3 separate regions of the Homo sapiens genome follow, and regions 1 and 3 are each linked to region 2. The links come from fine-mapping of genetic effects on gene expression. A gene starts in region 2. Each other region holds a variant in brackets. All regions are shown on one strand. Distances are between the middles of the regions. Region 1 overlaps DOT1L (DOT1 like histone lysine methyltransferase). Region 2 holds the start of AMH (anti-Mullerian hormone). Region 3 holds the start of DOT1L-AS1 (DOT1L antisense RNA 1).

Region 1 (8,168 bases), 64 kb before region 2:
CACAAAAATTAGCCGGGTGAGGTAGCAGGTGCCTATAGTCCCAGCTACTTTGGAGGCTGAGGCAGGAGAATAGCTTGAACCCAGGGGGCGGAGGTTGCAGTGACCCAAGATGGTGCCACTGCACTGCAGCCTGGGTGATAAGAGTGAGACTCCATCTCAAAAATAAATAAATAAATAAATAAATAATGCTCAGCTGGGCATGGTGGCTCACACCTGGAATCCCAGTGCTTTGAGAGGCTGGGAGGGTTGATCACTTGAATCCAGGAGCTGGAGATTGGCCGGGCAACATAATGAGACCCCAAGTCTACAAAAAAGTAAAAAATTAGCTGGGCATGGTGGTGCACACCTGTGGTCCCAGCTACTTGCGGGGCTGAGGTGGGAGGATCACTTGAGACCAGTGGCGCTGTGATTGTGCCACCGCCCTCCAGCCAGGCAACAGAGTGAGACCCTGTCTCAAGAAACAAAACCCAAACAAGAAAGAGTGCTCCAGGGCTGTGGCTTCCCGGGGCTGTGACTGTGCAGGTTCTGCCAGTGCTGCCCAGACGTGGTCTCTCTGGGTTAGGATCTCGGTGCAGCAGGGGTGGAAGCCCCTCTCTGACCAGGCGCTTGCTAGTGTGTCTGGAGGTGCTCAGCAGCAGGGGAGCTGCACCTGCTCCCCATGGGAAGGGGCCTGCACAGACTTCTGGGGTCAGAGGAGACCCCAGGCCCCCGGATCTCAGGCAGTGGCGGTGAGAGTGCCTCTCTGGCTGCATGCTCGCCTTCTGCAGGGCTCGGAGCTGACTGTCTTGTTTGAACCTTGTGTGTTTTCTGGGGAGCGCATCTGGAGTCTGGAGCTTAAGCGTTGTAGGGAGCAGGGTCCAGGCACAGGGGCGTGCACCAACACCTGGGCATCCGCGACGTAGGCAGAGACCTCGAAACTCGAACCCCCACCACCTGGAGAGGCTGCTTTCTCCCGTGCATCCCCAGCATGTGGCCAGGGTTCTCACGGTGTGGCTGCACAGACCTTTTCTGTCTCACTTCCTCTAGAAACACCGACGACGTTCTTACACAGCAAACACCATTCAGTCCCCATACGGCCAGTGTCCCAAGCACGTCCTCCCACAGTGGTGTTGTTTTTTTGAGTCAGCGTCTGGCTCTGCTGCTCAGGCTGGGGTGCAGTGGTGCCATCTCAGCTCACTGCAACTTCCACCTCCCAGGTTCAAGCAATTCTCCTGCCTCAGCCTCCCGAGTAGCAGGGATTACAGGTGCCTGCAACCACGCCCAGCTAATTTTTGTATTTTTAGTAGAGGCGAGGTTTTGCCACCTTGGCCAGGCTGGTCTCAAACTCCTGGCCTCAAGTGATCCACCCGCCTCGGCCTCCCGAAGTGTGGGGAGGGCTGTTGTTTAAAGATGATTGGGCTGTCCTAGGCTCTCCTCGTTTGGATGTCCGTTGAGAATCAGCCTTTCCATTTCTCCAGAAAAGCTAGCTGGGCTTTTTCTAGAAATTGGTTTGAGCCTGCAGTTCAGCTTGGGGAAAGGGGCGTTTAAACAGTGTCACTCCCAGGTATTCCTGCTTCAGTGCTTTTTTTTTTTTTTAAGGCGGAGTCTCACTCTGTTGCCCGGGCTGGAGTGTGGTGGCGCATCCTCGGCTCCCTGCAGCCTCCGTCTCCGGGGTTCAAGTGATTCTTCTTCCTCAGCCTCCCGAGTAGCTGGGATTAGAGGCGCCCGTCACCATGCCCAGCAAATTTTTGTGTTTTTAGTAGAGACAGGGTTTCACCATGTTGATCAGGCTGGTCTCGAACTCCTGACCTCGTGATCCGCCTGCCTCGGCCTCCCAAAGCACTGGGATTATAGGCATGAGCCACCACGCCCGGCCTTTGGTGCTTTTTTATGTGGCATTTTGACAATCCTTTGCTGCTAGTATGTGTAAAGACTGCTCCCTTTTGCCTATCGGCCATGCCCCTGCTGAGCTCTGGCGGTGTCCGCGCGTATTCCTCAGCACGCTCTGTGGCGCAGAACCACGGGACTGAGTGAAGACCGTGCGGCCGCTCCTTTCAGGCTCCTTGCTGCTTTGAGTGTTTTTCTTGCCGAGTTGCGCTGGCCGGAACCTCCTGGACAGTGTGATGAGAAGTGACTGCAGATGGCCTTGCTTGGGTTGCTCTCGGGGCCTCGCTCGGTGCCTGGGGCTTTTGATGATCTGCATTGTGAGGTCCCCTGCCGGTGTTGGCCAGGTGTGCAGGCGTTGACCATGCTGGGGACGGGTGACGAGAGGCACCAATAATCACAGAGGGCGGATGCCACAGCCCTTCTGACAGGATGCTGTGTCTTTCAGTGTGGAAGGGTCTTGGAGGGCACCCGGACCTGAGGTCAGGTCCTGGCCAGCTGGTTGGGGAGTCTGGGGACTTGGCGTGGGGTAGGGGGCAATGAAGCTACTCTCGGAGTTCTGGGAAGCTGCCCGCTGGACTTAGCAGGTCAAGAGGACTGGGGAGCAGAGGCCGAACCCCCATCCCTCCCTGACCCCTCCTGCAGAGCCGCAGGCCAGGTGGCTGCGGAAGGTGGGCCTGCTGCTGTCACAGCGGCTCAGTGACTGGTCCCGTGCCCTTTCCAAGCGGAAGGCGTGTCCTTCCATTTCTGGCCTCTTGGAGGGTACCGTCCTGATGGCACCGAATGCCGTCCTGTGGGCTTTCCGTACTCGCCCACACGGGGCTGCTCAGATCTCCGTCCTTGTTCCTTCGGTGAATTGCAGTGACTAATTTTAGAGTGAAGCAGCTTTTCCTCCCCAGGAGGTGCTGTGTGTGGTTGTGAGGTGCCGCTGCGGTTTCCTCACGTTTTTAAGGGATAGTGGGGTGTGTTGGTCAGGGATGTTGGTCAGCTGTTGCCTTTCTTGTCCTTTCTTTCCAGCCCTTTGCGTCTCTATGGTTTTGGTGTCAAGATGACGCTGGCTGCATAAAACTCTGAGAAAGTTTCTGTAGGTTTAGTGTTTGTCTTGTCAGTGTTTGATGGAATTCACCAGTGTGTTTTTGTATTTTGTATTTTTAGTAGAGACGGGGTTTCTCCATGTTGGTCAGGCTGGTCTCCAACTCCTGACCTCGTGATCTGCCCACCTCGGCCTCCCAGAGTGCTGGGATTACAGGTGTGAGCCACCGCACCCGGCACCAGTTGGCTTTAGTTTCTAGTCAGTCAGTTGCTTTTCGAGCTCTGATGTGGCCAGTGGGTCCCTAGACCAGCCCTGTAGCAGATAAGTTCACTTAGGTCCCCAGAGCCACTGGTGTGTGGCCTCGAAGCCACGTAATACCTGTGTGATTCAGTAACAGCTTCGTGGTAAACATCGTAGCCTTCGTTTTGAAGTCACGCCTCCCTTCTCTCTCCACTTTGAGTGGAGGGGTAAGGATGTTTGTTTTCTGTTGGAGAGGATGCAGTGTTTAAGAACATGCGGGGTAATACTCAAGATTGTTTACACCTGTCATCCCAGCACTGTGGGAGGCTGAAGTGGGCGGATCACTTCAGGTCAGGAGTTTGAGACCAGCCTTGCCAAAATGGCCTAACCCGGTCTCTACTAAAAATACAAAAATTAGCCAGGCGTGGTGGTGGGCACCTGTAGTCCCAGCTACTTGGGAGGCTGAGGCAGGAGAATCGCTTGAACCCAGGAGGCGGAGCTTGCAGTGAGCCAAGATCACGACACTGCACTCCAGCCTGGGCAACAGAGTGAGACTCCGTCTCAAAACAAAAACAAAAACAAAAACAAAACACAAAACAAAACAAAAAAAACCAAACCCTTCCTGATCGTTTCTGCTGCTGTGTTTCAGATGGGTCTGTGAAGAAATCCCGGATCTCAAGCTCGCTATGGAGAATTACGTTTTAATTGACTATGACACCAAAAGGTAAGCAGAGTCCTGTCCAGCCGCTCCGCTCCGAGGACAGACTCGGCTCTTGGGGAGGACAGGAGGACGCATCCTATAATTAGCTCTTCTTAGATGGTGCAAGCTGATCTGAAATTTCCTTTTAGAGTTGGCCGTGGCCACCATAAAGTTATTTTGGTAGGAAATGTTTATCAACTCTTGGCAAAGGCTGTCAGAGGCCGGACAGAATTGGAAACTCCGGTTGTGGAAAGTGGGATTGGCATGTGTGGAGTCAGCCCGCGCTAGTGATCGCTCTTTTTATAGCGGGCGGCTGACGGCCAGAAGTCCGC[G/A]TTCCTGCCTGAGGCTGCTGGGAGGGCCTGGGCGGCCTTAGGCTGCTTGGCAGCTCTGTTTAGATCTCAGCTGGGTTTGGTTAGTCCCTCTGTCTCCAGCCCTGTGGCTGCGTTAGCAATTTCGCCCTGGCAGCTCCTGGGTCTCGGAGGAGGGTCTTGTGGGTGGAGAGGGGCAGGGCTGTCTCTGGAATGCTTGCTTGGAAGTGTTTTGTTTTTCTTTGACAAGGAAGACATTCCAGGCTCATGCCTTTTTCAGCTCTTGAGTCTGAAATCAACAGAGTAGTCCTCCATCAAGGGCTGTGCTGTCGTGAGCTTAGGTGAGCCCCTCTCCACAGAGAGTCAAGCCCAGAGGGCCACGCGGCTGCACTTTACCTGGCTCTCCGGCCTCACTGGCATGTGGGAGGGACTCTTGTCTGGGGTCAGCGGTCTCAGCCTCAGTAAACCTCGAGATCCTGTGCCCCTCCCTCGAGCCCTGCCCATTCCCTGGTCAGCACCCTGGTGCCCCACAGGCAGACAAGCGTGTTGCTGGCAGGGTCCTGCGTGCCGACCTGCTGCTGTGGATTTCACGCCACCTGCCTCGCATGTCGGGGCCTCTCGCCACCCCCCCTCATTGGGCGTGATGGTGTGCTGGGCCCTTCCCTGGTTTAGTATGAAGAGTGTGATGCAGCGTGCAGATCAACAGCCGCATGGCAGGGTCCACAGGGAGGGGCCTGCAGGGCCCTGCACAGAGCTCTGTGTCCGTGGAGTTGGGGAGCACTAACCCCAAAGCTCTGCACCCTGTGCTTTCGGGTTTTCACGGAGGCTTCTCGGAGACTTGCTTGATGATTGCCTCCATCTCCAGTCCCCTCTTTCTAAGCTTCTTACCGCAGCTTGGGCTTTACCTCACCCAGGAGCCCCCCACAAGTCGCTTCCTTACAACAGAAGACACTCCTGTCACCTAGAAGTTCCCAGGGATCAGGAGCTTTGTTAGGAACTAGAGTCCCCTCGGATGAGTGGGTGTTGTCGGGCTGAGCCCTTTCACATTAACCTGGGGCAGTTATGGCACCTCACTTGTGTGTGGCCAGCTTCTGCCTTGGCTCTGAGCAGCGAGCGTGTCAGACGCTGTGCTCACGGCGCCCCTCCACGTGGGTGTGTGGCGTCCTTCCTCTTCGCGTGGGATGGGCTTAGCCAAGGCTGGAAGGACATCAGGGACAGGCTGGGCAGGGGGTCTTCGTTGGAGCTGGCAGGGCCACCTGAGGGACCGAGCCATTAGGGCTTCAGACCAAGGACAGCCCCAGCTCCTCTGAGCACCTGCATTTGCACAGCCTGCCAGGGAAGAGTCTCTTCCCAGGAGCGTGCAGAGGTGATTTTGGGAAGGTCTGGTTGTCAGGGTTGAAGGCGGCGTGTAGAAGTGGAAACACAGGGGCTGGGCACCGTGGCTCACACCTGTAATCCCAGCACTTTGGGAGGCCGAGGCGGATGGATCACGAGGTCAGGAGATCGAGACCATCCTCGCTAGCACAGTGAAACCCCGTCTCTACTAAAAATACAAAAAATTAGCCGGGCGTGGTGGCGGGTGCCTGTAGTCCCAGTTAGTCAGGAGGCTGAGGCAGGAGAATGGTGTGAACCCGGGAGGCGGAGCTTGCAGTGAGCTGAGATCGCGCCACCGCACTCCAGCCTGGGTGACAGAGCGAGACTCCATCTCAGAAAAAAAAAAAAAAAGGGAAGTGAAAAGACAGGAAGGGCCAGGGCTGCTCCTCTGGAGCTGCGGGGAAGGCGGGAGGCAGCAGGCCGGCTCTGTGGGTTCCTCCGGCCCGCATGGTGCCTGCTGGCCCTCTGCACCACCTGGGCTCCTTCCACCCCCGTGTCCTTCGTCCTCCGGAGGATCCAGGTCCTGTGTGGCCGTGCTCCCGGGGCTGTCGGCAGGCTCTTGTTCTTGGTGTTTGCTCCTCTTAAGTTCTCTTGCTTTATCCTATGCAGCTGCTGGTTAAGGAAAACATGAACTTGGCCTGTGGAGCACTGGTTTTCCTATGAGGAAGGGGAAGTGTGAACCTCGGCACATGCAGTGCCCAGGTGAATTCAGGGTGGCCAGGGCAGGGCAGGAAGAGCATGGGGCTGGGGCTGGGGTGGGAGCAGGGGTGTGATTGTTTAGCCACGTCTCGGAGCATCTGCCAGGCTCTTGGGGTTGCCATTGGGAGGAAACTGCTTGCGTGCACGTGGAGGTGGCGGAGGACGGAGGCGGAGGAAAGAGTCCCCAGCCGCCGCCCCCCCCCCCCCCACCCGCACAGGTGCAGGCCCCCTCGGCGCTGGGGATGTGGAAGTCGGATTGTTCTCTGGGAGGGGCCGTCCTGGGCACTGCAGGGTGCCGAGCAGGGTCCCTGCCTCCATCTCTTGCTTGCCTCGCCACATTCCTGGGGTCCCCGGTGAGAGCCACTGTGTGTGACAGTGTTCACTGGACAGGTACGCCTCCTCCTCCTGTCTCTTGCTCTGCTCTGGACACCTTCTGAGGTGGAGGGACAGACGCTGTTGTCCACATTTTGCCAGTGGGTCCAACAGACTTGGAAGATGAGCAAGTTATCCCAGGTGGAGACTGGACAGACTAGGCCAGGCAGACCCCGTAGCAGGCTTGCCCCCACCCCGGAAGCCCCTCTGAGCCCAGGCCTGGCTGGGCCGCGTGGCCGGTGTTTCTTGTGGCTCACGTGCCCCACAGACAGTGGGCACTCCCTGGAGCACAGGTGCCCCCTGCCCTCTGGTGGGCTCTGCCCCGATGCTGTTGGGTTGTGGGCACTTAGGTAATGAGGGTTTGCCTTGCGGCCAGGGCAAGGAGGGCAGAGTTGCTGCGGGGGGACTGAGTCTCACTGTGGACCCTGCTGTGCCGTGTCTGACATGACACACTGCTGACGTGACACACTGCTGACGTGACACACTGCTGACATGACACACTGCTGACGTGTGAATGAGTTGGAGCTTTGGAAGGACACGCTCACAGAGCAGTGTGGGTGGGGGTGAGGCATCTTCCTTTCTGCAGTGCTCACTCCTCCTGCACCTGCCCGGGCAGAGGCCTGGTGGTCCCTGGGAGACCCCAGCCGTTCACCTGCCTCTGGCGATGGTGGCTGTCCCCAGCCAGGGCAAGGAAGACCCTCTAAGGCCGGCCCCAGGGTTTCCCACTTGGGGGGCTGGCCTCAGTCCCCCTCGAGCCCTCTTTCTCTCCTCACGCCTCCAGCACACGTGGACCTCGGCTTTGCGCGGGAGCCTGGGCAGGTCCAGACTGCCTCAGGGCTCAGTGCTTCCCTGCACCGGACTCTCGGCCGGCCACCTCGCTTGTGTGTCAAACCTGAAATCTCCTGCATCAGGGCGGAAAGCGAGGCTTCTGCCAGAAGGGTCTTGGCCAGCTGGCTGGTGGCTGTCCAGGCAGGGACCACACCTTGGAGCCTGCCTTATCCACATGCTGTCCCCTCCCATGCATGCGGCTGGCTCCTGCCCGCATGACCAGGGCCTTCCCTTGCCTTTTTCAGCTTCGAGAGCATGCAGAGGCTCTGCGACAAGTACAACCGTGCCATCGACAGCATCCACCAGCTGGTAGGTGGCTTGCCCCTGCCCAGAGGGGGTTAGTAGTGCCAGGCTCCCGGACCCCTCCAGACCCCTTATGTCACCGCCTCGGGGCACAGAGCTCCCCTTAGAGCCCCTGGGGATTGGAATGTGCAGCGTGGGGGGACGATGGGCTGTGGGTGAGTGGTGTGGGGGCTGCCGAGGCTGGGCTGTGTGCTGTGGCCGTGTGCCAAAGCAGAGCCGTCCGTGGTTTGTGTGCTGAGGCAGGGCCCTGAGGGTTGTGGTGTCTGCACACGCCTCTGCAGCCCTGGGTTGGTGTCCGCAGGTCCCAGCAGAGGCGGGGTCCCTGTCCTCCCCGGGCTGTGTGAATGCCGGCCTTCCCCCTTGGACCTCCCCCACACCGCCTGCCTTCATCAGGCTGGATGCCGGCCTGGGCTGCACCCTTGGGCACCCCGGTCCTGCTGTGTCTCGT
Region 2 (8,140 bases):
TGAAGGAGGACAGGGAGAAGCGGCTGTTAGAGGCAGCTCCTCCCGGACCCTCAGCAGTGGGAATGGCTAGAGGTGACCCCGGTTCAGAAAGCTGGGGAAGTGACCAGGGTGGAAGATAGAGACTTGTGTCCATAGGGTTCAGGAAGGCGGGCACGCTACCCAGCAAGTGTTCTTTACAGAAGGCGGGGACAGCCTGTGTGCCTGGCCTCCAGACAGAAGCCTGCAGGGCAGAGGTCCCGGGGCAGGTGCACCGGGTGGGCGAGGGTGGCTAGAGCGGCAGGCTCCTGGTGGGGAGGCCCTGACAGGTCCTGGGCTTGGGCTCAGGACGGTGAGGCGGCAGAGGGCTTGTGAGTGTGCGTGTCTGAGGCCGCATGGAGAGTGGCCGGGCGGCAGGCAGCCCAGCAGCCATTCTCGGGGTCCAGGCTGCTGAGCTCTGGCGGGAAGGGCATCCTCTCTCGCTCACCGTATACATGGTGTCAGCCCTGTTCAGGCGGCCCCGCTCGAATCCCAGAGCCAGGGTGCCGAGGGCCCCTCCCTACCCAGTGGCCCCAACTCCTGCTGGGTGGTATCCCAGCACCCCTGGTGAAGGGCTCTGGGGATTGGGACAAAGGAGCACCATCCTCGGTCCCTGCCTGAGTGACTCCGCAGGTAGCTCAGCTCTGGCGCACCTGTGCCTTCACCTATACCAGAATCCCAGAGCCTGGGCGGAGATTGTCTAATGGTTGCCAGAGCTGCAGGGCCTCCCCCGGGGTCCCGCTCTCGTTCAGTGGGTGGCATTAGCCTGCCCCAGGTTCCTCAGCTTCGGAGAGGACAAGCAGCCGGGACCTGAGAGCTTTCTGTGTTGCAGTGACCAAGCAGAGAGACTCGGAGATGGGCCAGCAGAGCCTCCTCTTCCAGGTGAGATCAGGGACTTGGGCGTGGGGGGCGGCCAAAGGCACCCAAGAGGCGGCTCTGCCACCCGGCCGTGTCCCTGCAGATTGACTACCCTGAGATCGCCGAGGGCATCATGCCACGTCACCGCTTCATGTCTGCGTACGAGCAGAGGATCGAGCCTCCGGACCGGCGCTGGCAGTACCTGCTCATGGCCGCCGAGCCCTACGAGACCATTGCCTTCAAGGTAGCGTGGCTGCGGGGTTCCCTGGGCCCCCTTGAGATGTGCAAGCCAGAAGGATCTGCATAGGCTGGGCAGGATGCCCCTCCCATCGGGCTTGGGGTCCCCTGGGCCCCCCCCAAGTCGGAGCCAGAAGGGTCTGCACAGGCCGGGCAGGGCACCTCTCCCATTGGGCTCTGCAGGAGGGCCTGCTTGGGCTCCACTGGGCCAATGAGAAGGGAGGCCGGCAGGGCTGAGCGCCAGGCCTGTGAGGCCTTTGCCAAGTGACCTCACTTCCTGGGCCAGGCTGCTGGAGGGCTTCCTACAGCCTGTCCCCATGCCTGGACAGGGCGGCCATCAGGAAACAAATAATACAAACGGTGACTGCCCAGGGAGGGGGCCAACAGCGTGCTAGCATTGAGGCCAGGTCTGTTTCACTCCAGAACTGAACCCTGTGCCCCACGAAAGTCTTACCAGCCTTCTCCTGGGCTCCCAGGGTAGAGTCCGGGCTGGGGAGGCTAGTGCCTCGGGCTCCCTGCCTGATGGTCGCCCTGAGGTCACAGGGACCAGGAGCCCTCTCTGTCCCCCGCCCTCCCAGGTGCCGAGCAGAGAGATCGACAAGGCGGAGGGCAAGTTCTGGACACACTGGAACCGGGAGACCAAGCAGGTGAGTGGCTCGCCCCGAGCCTGGCTCCTTCCCACCCAGCCCTGGCGGCCCTAGCCCTGCCCTAGCCCCACCCGTGCCTGCTGAACCTTTCTCCGTCTCTCTAGTTCTTCCTCCAGTTCCACTTTAAGATGGAGAAGCCCCCGGCTCCACCCAGCCTCCCTGCTGGCCCCCCTGGGGTGAAGCGGCCTCCACCCCCGCTGATGAACGGTCTGCCCCCTCGGCCACCGCTGCCTGAGTCTTTGCCACCGCCCCCGCCAGGAGGCCTGCCTCTGCCACCCATGCCCCCCACAGGGCCTGCGCCCTCAGGGCCCCCGGGACCACCCCAGCTACCCCCGCCAGCTCCAGGGGTCCACCCCCCGGCCCCAGTGGTGCATCCCCCTGCATCTGGGGTCCATCCCCCAGCTCCTGGCGTCCACCCCCCAGCTCCTGGCGTCCATCCCCCAGCCCCTGGGGTCCACCCACCAACCTCTGGGGTCCACCCCCCAGCTCCTGGAGTCCACCCTCCAGCCCCCGGGGTTCACCCACCAGCCCCCGGAGTCCACCCACCAGCCCCTGGGGTTCACCCACCAGCCCCAGGGGTCCATCCTCCCCCATCAGCGGGGGTTCACCCCCAGGCCCCGGGGGTGCACCCAGCAGCCCCCGCCGTTCACCCTCAGGCCCCAGGGGTGCACCCACCAGCCCCAGGGATGCACCCTCAGGCCCCGGGGGTCCACCCCCAACCTCCCGGGGTCCATCCGTCGGCTCCTGGGGTCCACCCTCAGCCTCCGGGAGTTCACCCCTCAAATCCTGGGGTGCACCCCCCAACTCCCATGCCCCCAATGCTGAGGCCCCCACTTCCCTCCGAAGGCCCAGGGAACATACCTCCCCCTCCCCCAACCAACTGAGAAGCTGCTCCCTCCCCCAGCAAGCCCAGCGCCAGGTGCTCTTGCCTTTTCCCACTGAGAGAAGGCTGCTCTTTTGTACTGCCCCCCGCTCATTAAACAGCCTCCCCCAGCCCTGAGTGCACTGATGTCCGCAGCGCCGCCCTACTGTGTCAGTGTGTGTGGGAGTGCCAGGCACAGCACCATCCCCCAGTTTGGGCCGACTGGGGAGGGCCTGGGGCCCGCCAGGAGACACCTGTGGGAGGCCTGAGAGATGGCTGTACCTTGGAGATGGCCTGGTGGAGGACAGACCCCACCAGCCAGCTAGGAGGGGATCTGGGGTCCTGTTCTGGGGAGGGAAGAGCAGACTCCACGATATCCTTGGGGTCTCCAGATAGCCCACCAGGGGTGGGGAGGGTGAGCAGGGACAGGGCGCCCCCACTGACTTGGGACCCTCCTCCTCCAGGCCCACACCTCAGCACCCAGGACATCTGGGCCCCCCGCCCCCAGCGCTGTCTAGTTTGGTTGCCTGGCCGTCACTCCCAGCCTGGTTCCCACTCCTGTGTCTTCTGGGGATGGCCCTCAAGGACGGCATGTTGACACATCAGGCCCAGCTCTATCACTGGGGAGGGAGATAGGCTGCCAGGGACAGAAAGGGCTCTTTGAGAAGGCCACTCTGCCTGGAGTGGGGGCGCCGGGCACTGTCCCCCAAGGTCGCGGCAGAGGAGATAGGGGTCTGTCCTGCACAAACACCCCACCTTCCACTCGGCTCACTTAAGGCAGGCAGCCCAGCCCCTGGCAGCACCCACGATGCGGGACCTGCCTCTCACCAGCCTGGCCCTAGTGCTGTCTGCCCTGGGGGCTCTGCTGGGGACTGAGGCCCTCAGAGCAGAGGAGCCAGCTGTGGGCACCAGTGGCCTCATCTTCCGAGAAGACTTGGACTGGCCTCCAGGCAGCCCACAAGAGCCTCTGTGCCTGGTGGCACTGGGCGGGGACAGCAATGGCAGCAGCTCCCCCCTGCGGGTGGTGGGGGCTCTAAGCGCCTATGAGCAGGCCTTCCTGGGGGCCGTGCAGAGGGCCCGCTGGGGCCCCCGAGACCTGGCCACCTTCGGGGTCTGCAACACCGGTGACAGGCAGGCTGCCTTGCCCTCTCTACGGCGGCTGGGGGCCTGGCTGCGGGACCCTGGGGGGCAGCGCCTGGTGGTCCTACACCTGGAGGAAGGTATGTGGGGCCCAGCCCCAAGCTTGGCACCGCCGTCTTCCTTCAGGTGGGCCGGGTCCTCCTAGGGAAGATCAGGGGCTGGCAGAGCCCCCACCCTGGGCAGGGAGGCTGTGGTCTTGTTCCTAGGACTGGGTTGCGGGTCCGTGGCCTGGAAGGTGGGCACCACACTCTGTCCTGTCCCCGAAGCCCAGCTCTTAGACTTGCCCCTGCCTCGGTGCCAGGGAGAGAGCTGCTGCCTTCTCCCCACCCCTGAAGACGACGCAGGGCTCGGGGCCAGTGGAACCCTTCTTCCCACAGCCCCAGCCTGTTCTCAGGGCCGCTGGCCTAAGATACTCCCTGCGGGGAAGGGGCTTCATCGGGCACCCCAACCCAGAGACCCCAGGGCGGCAGCCCCACCCACAGCCTCAGACGCAGCCCCTGCCTGCCCCTGCCGTCACCGCTCCCTGGCTGCAGGAAGGCAGCTAAGAGGGGCACCCTTGTCCCCCGCTTGAGGTCCCCTGCACAGTGGCCAGAGCGGCAGGGACAGATCCCAAAGATTCCCGGGGGGTGTGGCCTTCAATGGCTCAGGCGTCCCCTGCTGTCCCGGCTGCAGTGACCTGGGAGCCAACACCCTCGCTGAGGTTCCAGGAGCCCCCGCCTGGAGGAGCTGGCCCCCCAGAGCTGGCGCTGCTGGTGCTGTACCCTGGGCCTGGCCCTGAGGTCACTGTGACGAGGGCTGGGCTGCCGGGTGCCCAGGTACCAGGGAGTTGCATGGGGCAGTGCCCGGGCCGTGGCGGGGGGCATGGATTTGTTGCAGGGTCTGCAGTACTGAGAACAGCGTAGAACCAGTGGCGATGGGAGGAAGGGGACCGGTAGAGCGGGGCTGGGTAAGCCTCCATCCAGCCGGGCTGAGCCCTGGTCTCCGCAGAGCCTCTGCCCCTCCCGAGACACCCGCTACCTGGTGTTAGCGGTGGACCGCCCTGCGGGGGCCTGGCGCGGCTCCGGGCTGGCCTTGACCCTGCAGCCCCGCGGAGAGGGTAGGTCCGCGTGGAGAGGGACGGGGAGCCGGGTCGACTGCCCCCGGGCCCCCAGCCCCTGAGCCAGCCGCGTGCCCACCCACCGCAGACTCCCGGCTGAGTACCGCCCGGCTGCAGGCACTGCTGTTCGGCGACGACCACCGCTGCTTCACACGGATGACCCCGGCCCTGCTCCTGCTGCCGCGGTCCGAGCCCGCGCCGCTGCCTGCGCACGGCCAGCTGGACACCGTGCCCTTCCCGCCGCCCAGGTGCGCGCAGGCACCGGGACACGGGGCAGGAGCGGGCGGGGGCGGCGTGGCCTCGTGGCCGCTCTCAACTCCTCCAATTGCGGGTTCCAGGCCATCCGCGGAACTCGAGGAGTCGCCACCCAGCGCAGACCCCTTCCTGGAGACGCTCACGCGCCTGGTGCGGGCGCTGCGGGTCCCCCCGGCCCGGGCCTCCGCGCCGCGCCTGGCCCTGGATCCGGACGCGCTGGCCGGCTTCCCGCAGGGCCTAGTCAACCTGTCGGACCCCGCGGCGCTGGAGCGCCTACTCGACGGCGAGGAGCCGCTGCTGCTGCTGCTGAGGCCCACTGCGGCCACCACCGGGGATCCTGCGCCCCTGCACGACCCCACGTCGGCGCCGTGGGCCACGGCCCTGGCGCGCCGCGTGGCTGCTGAACTGCAAGCGGCGGCTGCCGAGCTGCGAAGCCTCCCGGGTCTGCCTCCGGCCACAGCCCCGCTGCTGGCGCGCCTGCTCGCGCTCTGCCCAGGTGGCCCCGGCGGCCTCGGCGATCCCCTGCGAGCGCTGCTGCTCCTGAAGGCGCTGCAGGGCCTGCGCGTGGAGTGGCGCGGGCGGGATCCGCGCGGGCCGGGTCGGGCACAGCGCAGCGCGGGGGCCACCGCCGCCGACGGGCCGTGCGCGCTGCGCGAGCTCAGCGTAGACCTCCGCGCCGAGCGCTCCGTACTCATCCCCGAGACCTACCAGGCCAACAATTGCCAGGGCGTGTGCGGCTGGCCTCAGTCCGACCGCAACCCGCGCTACGGCAACCACGTGGTGCTGCTGCTGAAGATGCAGGTCCGTGGGGCCGCCCTGGCGCGCCCACCCTGCTGCGTGCCCACCGCCTACGCGGGCAAGCTGCTCATCAGCCTGTCGGAGGAGCGCATCAGCGCGCACCACGTGCCCAACATGGTGGCCACCGAGTGTGGCTGCCGGTGACCCCTGCGCCGCGCGGACTCCTGCCCCGAGGGTCCGGACGCGCCCCAGCTCGCGCCCCTTCCCATATTTATTCGGACCCCAAGCATCGCCCCAATAAAGACCAGCAAGCAACCGGCTGGGGTGTCCGTGCGTGTTAGGGGGCCCGTGGGACCTCCCTTGCCGTCTCTCCTCGCGCACGGCCCGGGTCCGCCCTGTAGCGCTCGCTGTCTCTCCCCTGCCTGAAGCGCCCCACCACCGTCTTTCAGGCCCCGGACTTGGTGCCGGGTCCAGGCGTAAAGGAGCAGGTGACTCTGCGGCCGCAGCACTCGCTTTATTTCGCCAGAGTCGCGGGGCGTCCAGAAGGGGCCCCTGGACTCCGGCGCGGGGCCGGCTCAGTCCCGCCCCTTGCCTGCGCGGAGCTTCTGGCGACTCCCAGGCCGCTGCTCCTCGTCGGGACGCCTCGGGGACACCCAGGCCTGCTTCTTCCTGGGCTCGGCGTCCCTGGAGTCCCGTGCCCACGGCCGGTGGCCCCCTTCGCGTGACTCCCAGCGCTGGGGTAGGGCTTCCCGGGGCTCCCTGGCGGCCCGTGGCCTCTCCTCTTTCCGCGGCCTCTCTTTCTTAGGTCTCTCCTCCTTCCGCGGCTTCTCCTTCCGCGGCTTCCCCTCTCTCCGAGGCCTCTCCTTGGGTCCCCGGTCTGCGAGGGTCACACGGTCCTCCCGGACGGCCTCTCCGGTGGCCTCGCCGGGCTCCTCTTCGTCGTTCTCTGCAGCCTCCCGACTCCCGGGAATCTTGGGTCTGACCTCTGCCTCGGCCCGGGGCGCAGGCGGCGCTGATGGAGGCGCCTGGGCCTCGAACTTAGGCTGCAAGACAGAGTGGGGTCCTGGGGTAAGCGCCCACCTTCCCCCCGGCCCGGGCTCCTTCTTTCCTTGGGGATGAAGGTCCCAATGCCCGCGGTCAGTGGAAGGAAGCTCTTACCAGGGGCGACGATGGCTCCCTCGGGGCTGAGCTTGGCGGGACCCAGGGCTCGGGCACACGTGCTTGGAGTGCTGCCTCCCCAGGGACGGCGTCTGCAGCGACAGGGTCGGGACCCGAGTCAGCTGGGCCGAGGCACGGTCCACACTGTCCATCCCTCCCTCACCCCTAGAGCCCCCCTCCCTGGACAGTTGGAGTGGGGCTCCCCCGGTACGGCTGAGACTAAGGATGCCCCCGAGCCGTGGGAAGGGACTCCGGGACTCCGCTGCCGCGGCGCCCCTTCTCCGAACCTCGCTCTTTCAATTGGTCATTCTTCCCCCCGACCACGGGCTGTAGGAGGCCCCTAGCAAGGGAGGGGTCGCAGGAGTGCCCCCGGGGGGCGCTCACGAGCTGAGCGGTCCCCAGAGAGGGCGCAGGGGAAAGGCGGCAGAACGCTACGAGGCAGGAGGGGTTGCACAAGGTTCATCCGGAAGCCAGAACCTACTCGCGGCGAGGGGAATGGGCCCCGCAAAAGGTCCACACCGGGTGAGAGGGGCGCGCAAGGCCCGTCACTTAAGGGGAGATGCACAAACCAACTTTGGGGGCGTGCAAGACCCAGCCCTGGAGAGGAGGCTCCCAGACCCCACCCTGGCGGCACAGCGCCTTTCCTTGGAGGAATAGGCGCACAGGTGGACCCCAGCCTCGCCCCACCTCTGGGGAGCCTGCGCTCACCGCGGCACAGCTGGAAAGCCGAGCCCAGCAGCGCCACCAGCGAGGCGAGCACCAGGCACTTGTTGAGCGACAGGTCTCCCCAGGGCAGCTCCTCGCTCAGGGCCGGGGGCGGCGGCGGCGGCTGCAGGGGCGGCGCGGTCTGCGCCTTCTTGCGCGCGGGGACGCTCCGAGGGCCTGCGGGGGCAAGTGCGCGCTGCGCTGTGGTCACTGGCTCTGTGCCGCCCCCTTCCCCGGGCGCAGGGGACAAGAGACAGGCCTGTGCCCTGAACCCGGCTCTCTCTGCCTGCCTGTGCGGCCCCGGGCGCAGGTGAACCCAGCCCCGGGTGCCCCGCAGCTGCACGGGGATGCCTAGAGTTTCTGGAAGGTAACTTCCCGGAGCTGAGTGGCATAGCTGGTATTATTACGCATTAGTAGAGGCTCCCTGCC
Region 3 (8,168 bases), 34 kb before region 2:
GGCATACACAAAGACCCCCCAGTACAAGGCCAGCCTGCAGGAGCTGCTGGGCCAGGAGAAGGTGGGTCCTGGCCCCCTTGGCATTCCGCCTTCCCGCACAGAGGCAGTTCGTTCCTGTTCCTGGGCATCTGTCCCCTGTGGCAGAGGCCCTGGAGCGCAGGCCTGAGTGGGCTCCCTCCTCTGCTCACCTGCTGCGAGAAACAAACCTACCCGTTTAAACCCAAAGAATGGACTGAGAGACCCGGAAAACAGCGAAAATGAGACTTTTAATCATGGTTTTGCAAGACCTGGTGTCTGATAGGCACACCCAGCACAGTTTGAACAAGCAACCTTCCCCCTAGTGCACAGGTCCCTCCCCCGGTTCCTCAAAGGCTGAGTACTGTGAGGTCACAGTCTTCCCAGTTGTCGCCTATTGGTTCGGCAGGGGCTGGAGTGCAGTGGTGTGATCTCGGCTCACTGCAAACTCCGCCTCCCGGGTTCACGCCATTCTCCTGCCTCAGCCTCCCAAGTAGCTGGGACTACAGGCACCCACCACCACATCCGGCTAATTTTTTGTATTTTTAGTAGAGACGGGGTCTCACTGTGTTGGCCAGGATGGTCTTGATCTCCTAATCTCGTGATCCTCCCGCCTCGGACTCCCAAAGTGCTGGGATTACAGGCATGAGCCACCACGCCCGGTTGTAGGTGTTTTCTTTAGGGTTGTCCTGCTGCATTTTGTGCATTGCAATCCCAGTCAGCTCAGGGACTGTTCAAGTATTTGACTTATGATCTAAGTAGCTGGGCAGGCTGATTAAGAACAGACAAAGCCAGCTCTTTTGCAGGCTGGTAAACCTTCATCTTAGGCTAAACTTCTTTGGTTCGGGTGAGGGCAACTAAGCCGGGGGAAGCGGGGGCAGGGGAGGCTGACAAGCAGGCATCAGCGATCCAAGCAGGGGCCTAGTACATGCTGTCTCTTCTGTAGTTTGCTGACCTAAGCCAATTCAAGGCAGTTTGTCCTGGAAATGGACCACTGTATACATGATTTCCTTCACCTGAGGTCCCGGCTGTGGGGCCCCGCCCTGGGAGTCTCCGAGGACCTGCTTTAGTGGGGAGCTAGGGCCGGGCTATGGGGTGGAAGTTCTGGCGGCCCAGAGATAACTCCAAAAGCCATTGGAGCCACAAGGTCGGCTGTCCCTGAGCCCTGGTTTGCATTTTGGACTTTGGCTTTGCTTTTAAAAAAAAGCTTACAGCGTGCTTTGAGCATATATGCACATGCATTGCTCACTGTGTAGCTGACAGCATGCCTGGGCCGGGGCCCTGTTCTCTGCTGGTGTCTGAAGGTTGTCCTGTGTCAGTGGCTCCTGGGGTCTTCCCTTGGAGGTGGGCCTCCGGACACTGAGTGTTTGCTGTTACGCTGCAGAAGGCTTCCTTGCAGATCCATGTGAAAAGTCCATCCCCTGGTATTGCCTTGGGATAAACTCCTTGGCATTGGCCGGCCTCTGCGTGGCTGGGGGCGCTGCCCTGGCTGAGTCCAGGTGGGGTGGCAGGTGCAGTCCCTCCAGCTGGCGAGAGTTCTTTGCAGTGAACCTGATGCAGAGCTGGTCCCCTCCCGCCGTGGCCTGAGTATTTCTTGACATCTCAGCCCGGTGTGGGTCCCCTCAGGCATGTCTGTCCTTGAGCGTGTCTTCAGGAAGCATGAGAGGCAGGGCGTGGGCCCTCCCTGTGGGCCCTCAGTCACCTGCCCTGGCCCTTAGTCACCTGCCCTGTTTGTCCTACAGGAGAAGAACGCCCAGCTCCTGGGTGCGGCTCAGCAGCTCCTCAGCCACTGCCAGGCCCAGAAGGAGGAGATCAGGAGGCTGTTTCAGCAAAAATTGGATGAGGTAGTGGACCCCAGAGGGCAGGTGGCAGGTGGCAGCTGGGGCGCAGGCTGGGGTGGTCCATGTCCGTCGGTATGGCTTCCTGTGGCTTCCTGTCTATGCCTCTGTCCAGCTGTGTCCCAGGGGCTGGGCTGCAGGGGTGGTCATGCCTGGGGGCTTACTTCACCTTGGAGGCCACCAGCATGACCTCTCCCCCGCCCCATGTCCCCAGCTGGGTGTGAAGGCGCTGACCTACAACGACCTGATTCAAGCGCAGAAGGAGATCTCCGCCCATAACCAGCAGCTGCGGGAGCAGTCGGAGCAGCTGGAGCAGGACAACCGCGCGCTCCGCGGCCAGAGCTTGCAGCTGGTGGGTGCCGCGGCGCAAGGACAGGGACGTGGAACCAGAGGGGCCCTGCCTGGGCGGGTGTGTCCTCTGTGCGGGTGGGAGGCTCTGGAAGGCCCGCCTCTGTTGTGGGGTTTGTTCCCAGACGAATTGCGCCACCTGTGAAAGCTTGTCGAGCGCGTCACAGCAGGCAGGCCTGGGCCCCTCGGCTGGATGGTTTCTCAGCGGCCCTGGGTGTCATGGAGCCACACTCTGGCAGGCTCGAGGTGTGGGGTCATGCGAGCATCCCACCATCGTGGTGTGGGTGCTGGAGCTGCCTCATCTGTCCGTGGGGGGCCCCAGTCTCCGCGTGTTCCGCATCCTCAGCCTGCTATTCCAGAAACGGGGTCTGTGCCCTAAGCACACATGCTGTTGGCTGAGGCAGGCCCAGGGAACCCTGCCCTGAGAGTGTGGGGTGTGCTGGGCAGGCAGCCAGCCAGTCGCAACTGTCCCATCCCTATCCCCTCAGCTCAAGGCTCGCTGCGAGGAGCTGCAGCTGGACTGGGCCACGCTGTCGCTGGAGAAGCTGTTGAAGGAGAAGCAGGCCCTGAAGAGCCAGATCTCGGAGAAGCAGAGGCACTGCCTGGAGCTGCAGGTGGGCTGCGCGCGAGGCTGCACTCCGTGGTGTCCGAGCCTCTCCCATCAGCCTCCCTGTGACGTCGTTGAGCCTAGGGTGGTTGCGGTTGCAGCAGCCTAGGAAGAAGGTGGAGGAGGACAGTTGGGTGGAGGCTTATGGAACCTTCTGTCTTGGGCCGCAGGCTGCCCGTGTGGATGACTCTGCCTCACTCTAGCCCTCAGCTCTCGGGGGCATCTCGGGATTGCTTGGCTGAATGCGCAGCGCTAACCTAGGATTTCCTGATTTCCTGGCTGCCTCCTTGCAAATCATTTCTGTAACAGTCATAGGGGAGAATTTGCTCATTAGAAAAACAGCTGGATCGGTGCAGGGGCTTATGCCTGTAATCCCAGCACCTTGGGAGGCTGAGGCGGGCAGATCACCTGAGGCTAGGAGTTGGAGAACAGCCTGGCCAACACAGTGGGACTCTGTCTCTAGCAAAAATACAAAAATTAGCCGGGTGTGGTGGTGTGTGCCTATAGTCCC[A/G]GCTCCCAGGGAGGCTGAGGCAGGAGTTCTGGCTCCCAGGATGGCATCCCCAAGGGCCATATTGAGGCAAAAAGGGCCGTGTTTGAGCCCGGGAGGTGGAGGCTGCAGCAAGCTGAGATTGCACCACTGCACTCCAGCCTGGGTGACAGAGCCAGGCCCCATCTGAAAAATAAAATAGCTTGTACTTTCTGACACCGAGAAACGCATTCGTGGAGGCCGAGTAGAGGAAGTGTGGAGGAGGGTGTGCAGCGGGAAGGTGCTCTCCTCCCTGCTCCCAGGCAGAGGCAGGTGCTGGTGGGCGGTGCCCACAGCTGCCGTGCAGCCTAGAAAGCAGCAGGTCACGGGCTTTGTTCCCAGAGCCCCATCCCGTCGACACTGTGCCCGCCTGCTCACCTTACGTGTCCCCAGCGTGGTTTCACTGTTGATGGACCTGGTGCCCTGTCGCTGGACCTCTGCTGCCTTTTCAAATGACTGCACCAAACCGTTGCTGCAAGGCTGTCCCCGGAGGCGGGCTCTCACGGGCGGCTGACGGACGTCGGGAAGCACCACTCACGTGCTCCCGAGCTGCTCCCTCACGTGTGTGGCCCAGGCGAGCCTCACCAGCGTACATTAGAGAAACGGAGGTCGCCGACCTCTTTACCACAGCCGGGCCCTGTGGGTCTGCCTGGAGTAGAGCCCTCGGGAAGAGCATATTTGGGTTCTGACCATTTTTGTCATCATCTTTTCTGTGTAATAAAAAAACAATGTGTTTGTTAAAAGAAAGGAAAGCAGGTAAACAGAACAGATAAACTAAAAGGAAAAAGCCCCTCTCAGACTCAGCGCCCGGGGAAGCTGCCACGCTCGAGTGGCGTGTCCCTCCACAGGTTTTACACTTAGTGAAACTGGATGTTTTACACTTAGAGTCTATTTTGAGAGACGAGAGCTCTTTGTATCTTCCTGTTGCTCTTTTTGAAGAAGGTGCTTCCATGTCAGCAAAAACCATCCTCGGCCCTCCACATGACTTTATTTGACGCCCCCAGCTTCCCGACCCCGCCTCTATGTGGTCGGCAGCTTTGGTTTTTCCATCCCACACAAGCAGCGGGGGTCCTGGCCACCCCTCCGGGTGTCCATCTGTGGCAGTCTTGGTTCCCTGGAGTGGTCCCCCGGTGGGGCGGGCCTGACACCATCTCTCCTCCTGCAGATCAGCATTGTGGAGCTAGAGAAGAGCCAGCGGCAGCAGGAGCTCCTGCAGCTCAAGTCCTGTGTGCCGCCTGACGACGCCCTGTCCCTGCACCTGCGTGGGAAGGGCGCCCTGGGCCGCGAGCTGGAGCCTGACGCCAGCCGGCTGCACCTGGAGCTGGACTGCACCAAGTTCTCGCTGCCTCACTTGAGCAGCATGAGCCCGGAGCTCTCCATGAACGGCCAGGCTGCTGGCTATGAGCTCTGCGGTGTGCTGAGCCGGCCTTCGTCGAAGCAGAACACGCCCCAGTACCTGGCCTCACCCCTGGACCAGGAGGTGGTGCCCTGTACCCCTAGCCACGTCGGCCGGCCGCGCCTGGAGAAGCTGTCTGGCCTAGCCGCACCCGACTACACTAGGCTGTCCCCGGCCAAGATTGTGCTGAGGCGGCACCTGAGCCAGGACCACACGGTGCCCGGCAGGCCGGCTGCCAGTGAGCTGCATTCGAGGTGAGTGCCCTGGTGGGGCTGGGGGTCTGCAGCTGGTACCTGCCGACTCTGCCTGGTGTGCTCAGGCTGTCGGGTTCTCAGCAGGAGTGTGTTTGTTGAGGAGACTGAGGTGGGGAGGTGCTGGGCCAGGCCGCTGCCTCTGAGTGCCAGCCCACGGCCCTCGAGAGTGACTGCAGCTTCTCATTCCAGAGCTGAGCACACCAAGGAGAACGGCCTTCCCTACCAGAGCCCCAGCGTGCCTGGCAGCATGAAGCTGAGCCCTCAGGACCCGCGGCCCCTGTCCCCTGGGGCCTTGCAGCTTGCTGGAGAGAAGAGCAGTGAGAAGGTGCGGGCCGCGACCCCTGCCCCGGGCTCAGGGAGGTGCTCAGCAGAGGCGGCCTGAGCGAGTTGCTAGCAGGAGGGCTTGTCCTAGTTGACCTTGGGGCACGGTGAGGTACTGGGGCTGACCTGGAGTAGGATGTTGTGGCAGAGTTGGGGGCAACCAGTAAGGACAGGTCACAGGTGACGTTGGGCAGGTGCCATGGAGGACATGGGGTTTGTCAGGGTGTCCCTGATGCCTCTTAGTTCTCAGTGACGGACGGCAAGTGCTGGTAGAGACACAGAGCCCAGTTTGGGAGGCCGCTGCCCATGAGGACTTCCCCGGGGGCACTGGCCTGTGTGCACAGGGATGGAGAGGGAAGGACGGTGACGTTGCATGGACTTGGCAGTGATGGATGTGGGCCCTGGGAGGCTTGGTGGCCCCACGGGTGACTGCCCACCGAGCCGGGCGGGCAGGCTGGAGGGGACAGATGGGCATTGCTTTCAGACACCAGGAGCGTGCCGTCCCTCTGGAGTGTCCCAAAGCCGGTGTCCAGGAGGGCCTGACTGCGTGGGGAAGGTTGCAGGGCCTTGGCAGCGTGGGGGCCGCCTTGAGAGAGCTGTAGCAGGCCCCCGTCCTGTGGCTGTGGTCCCTGTGTCCTGGAGGGGTTTGTTGACCCACGACTGGGGGTCGGGCCTTCGTCTGCAGGGCCTGAGAGAGCGCGCCTACGGCAGCAGCGGGGAGCTCATCACCAGCCTGCCCATCAGCATCCCGCTCAGCACCGTGCAGCCCAACAAGCTCCCGGTCAGCATTCCCCTGGCCAGCGTGGTGCTGCCCAGCCGCGCCGAGAGGGCGGTGAGTGGCTCCCAGGTGGCTGTCCCCAAGGGCCACGTTGAGGCAAAACAGTCTGGGGTGCTCGAGACCTGGCTCACTTTGCGAAGTCTCACGCTGTAAAATGTCGAGCGTGAGGCAATGCAGTCAAGGTGGGCTGTCCAAAGCCGGGGCGTGTCCGGTGACCTGGGCCGTTGTTTTCGCCAGTCTTTTTCTTTTGGGTGAAAGGTACGTGTGCAAGTGGAGAGGGCCTCACACCTTCTGGGTTGAGGAGGAGCTCAGAGGCCCACCCTGGCTCCCAGCCTCACTCCTCACGAGGCCACATTGGCTGCCGTGGCCCCTGTCCTCACAGCTGCCTCTGGGTTCTCCCACCCAGCGCTGTGCATGCAGAGAATCTCGTCTTGTGTAGCATGGGCGGGATTTTCTGGGCATTGAACTATTTTTTAAAAATTGTGCGCTTCAAGTATATGCTTCAGTGGTTTTTAGCATTTATTTTTTATTTTTTATTTTTATTTTTCAGACGGAGTCTCACTCTGTCGCCCAGGCTGGAGTGCAGTGGTGCGATCTCGGCTCACTGCAAGCTCCACCTCCCGGGTTCACGCCATTCTCCTGCCTCAGCCTCCCGAGTAGCTGGGACTACAGGCGCCCGCCACCACGCCTGGCTAATTTTTTGTATTTTTAGTAGAGATGGGGTTTCACCGTGTTAGCCAGGATGGTCTTGATCTCCTGACCTAGTGATCCGCCCGCCTGGGCCTCCCAAAGTGCTGGGATTACAGGCGTGAGCCACGACGTCTGGCCTCTTTCTTTTTTTTTATTTTTCGAGATGGAGACTCATTCTGTCCCCCAGGCTGGAGTGCAATTGTGTGATCTCGGCTCACTGCAATCTCTGCCTCCCAGGTTCATGCCATTCTCCTGCCTCAGCCTCCCGAGTAGCTGGGATTACAGGTGCCCACCACCACGCCCGGTTAATCCCCGCCCCCACCAGCTGAGACGGAGTCTTGCTCTGTTGCCCAGGCTGGAGGGCAGTGGCACGATCTTGTGATCTTTACTCACTGCAGCCTCCGCCTGCTGGGTTCAAGCAGTTCTCCTGCCTCAGCCTCCCGAGTAGCTGGGATTACAGGCATGCACCACTATGCCCAGCTGATTTTTGTATTTTTAGTAGAGACAGGGTTTCACCATCTTGGCCGAGCTGGTCTCAAACTCCTGACCTCAGGTGATCTGCCCACCTCAGCCTCCGAAATTGATGGGATGACAGGCATGAGCCACCGCACCCGGCCAATTTTTGTATTTTTAATAGAGGTGGAGGTTTTGCCCTGTTGGCCAGGGTGGTCTCGAACTCCTGGCCTCAGTCGACCCACCCGCCTCGGCCTCCCACAGTGCTGGGATTCCAAGTGTCAGCCCCCGTGCCCGGCCGGTTTTTTGTACTTTTATACACCTCTGTCTAATTCAGGACATTTTCTTCACCCGGGAAAAAGCGTTGCCCGCCTCAGCAGTCACTCCCTAGTCGTCCCCCAGCCCCCGGGCCCCCGAACACGCTCATGTCTGGGCCTGTCCCTTCTCTTGGCACGTGAGGGCATTCCCTGTGTGGATGGAGTGTGCCATCTTCATCCGTGCCCAGTTGATGGACCCCGGCTTGATTCCCTGTTTTGGCGATTGTGAATCGTTCTGCTGTGAGCGCTGGGGTCCAGGTTTCTGTGTGGATGTAGGTTTGCTCTTTGGCCCATGTGGGAGTGGAGCTACTGGGTTCTGCGGTCACTCTACTGACCTTTGTTGGACTTGGAGTGTGGTGTGGGGAAGTGCAGTGGGTGGTGGCCGGCAGGTGTGTTCTCGCAAGCGCCCTCCTCACCCCACCCGACTGCTGGCATTTGTGCTGCTTGGAGAACACAGCCGCTTCCCGGTGAGGGCGGGCTGTGGGTTGCTTGGGTTGTGCCCAGTACCCCCTCCCCACAGCTGGACCCCGGGACCCCCGCCTCCTGACCTCCCTGCCTCAGGCCCGCTGCCCATTCACACGCAGGCACCGCGCACTCTCGCTGCGCCACTCGCCTGGGGCCCCGC

What was found. PIP is the estimated chance that this variant, and not a neighbour inherited with it, causes the effect. A credible set is the group of variants that fine-mapping cannot tell apart.
Region 1: its variant is the best candidate, but not a certain one, in a credible set for the expression of AMH in prefrontal cortex (ROSMAP, PIP 0.66).
Region 3: its variant is the best candidate, but not a certain one, in a credible set for the expression of AMH in prefrontal cortex (ROSMAP, PIP 0.85).

What each region holds. Positions count from the first base shown.
Region 1 is chr19:2,182,070-2,190,237 of GRCh38, forward strand. It overlaps DOT1L (DOT1 like histone lysine methyltransferase), which reads left to right. Exons shown (of 28, transcript NM_032482.3): 3 at 3,786-3,860; 4 at 7,663-7,726. Among named protein-coding and RNA genes, the nearest start is that of DOT1L, 22 kb to the left of the region's middle. RefSeq lists enhancers at 677-836, 1,027-1,116. The variant G/A (reference allele first, on the strand shown) is at 4,169.
Region 2 is chr19:2,245,906-2,254,045 of GRCh38, forward strand. It overlaps AMH (anti-Mullerian hormone), which reads left to right and starts at 3,418. Exons shown (of 5, transcript NM_000479.5): 1 at 3,418-3,839; 2 at 4,432-4,574; 3 at 4,747-4,855; 4 at 4,944-5,103; 5 at 5,194-6,168. The coding sequence starts at 3,428. The coding sequence ends at 6,052. It overlaps SF3A2 (splicing factor 3a subunit 2), which reads left to right. Exons shown (of 9, transcript NM_007165.5): 6 at 848-897; 7 at 977-1,117; 8 at 1,689-1,757; 9 at 1,862-2,750. The coding sequence ends at 2,641. JSRP1 (junctional sarcoplasmic reticulum protein 1) reads right to left here. Exons shown (of 7, transcript NM_144616.4): 5 at 7,715-7,888; 6 at 7,007-7,098; 7 at 6,347-6,891. The coding sequence ends at 6,424. It overlaps MIR4321 (microRNA 4321), which reads left to right and starts at 4,734; the gene lies at 4,734-4,813. RefSeq lists enhancers at 1-175, 429-1,506, 805-1,306, 3,361-3,500, 7,457-7,666, promoters at 429-3,427, 1,362-3,396, 3,148-3,427, 3,218-3,427, 3,396-3,427 and a silencer at 4,741-4,800.
Region 3 is chr19:2,211,782-2,219,949 of GRCh38, forward strand. DOT1L (DOT1 like histone lysine methyltransferase) reads left to right here. Exons shown (of 28, transcript NM_032482.3): 16 at 1-61; 17 at 1,758-1,859; 18 at 2,068-2,205; 19 at 2,690-2,815; 20 at 4,500-4,984; 21 at 5,174-5,309; 22 at 5,991-6,137. It overlaps DOT1L-AS1 (DOT1L antisense RNA 1), which reads right to left and starts at 3,784. Exons shown (of 2, transcript XR_007067087.1): 1 at 3,713-3,784; 2 at 247-2,913. The variant A/G (reference allele first, on the strand shown) is at 3,320.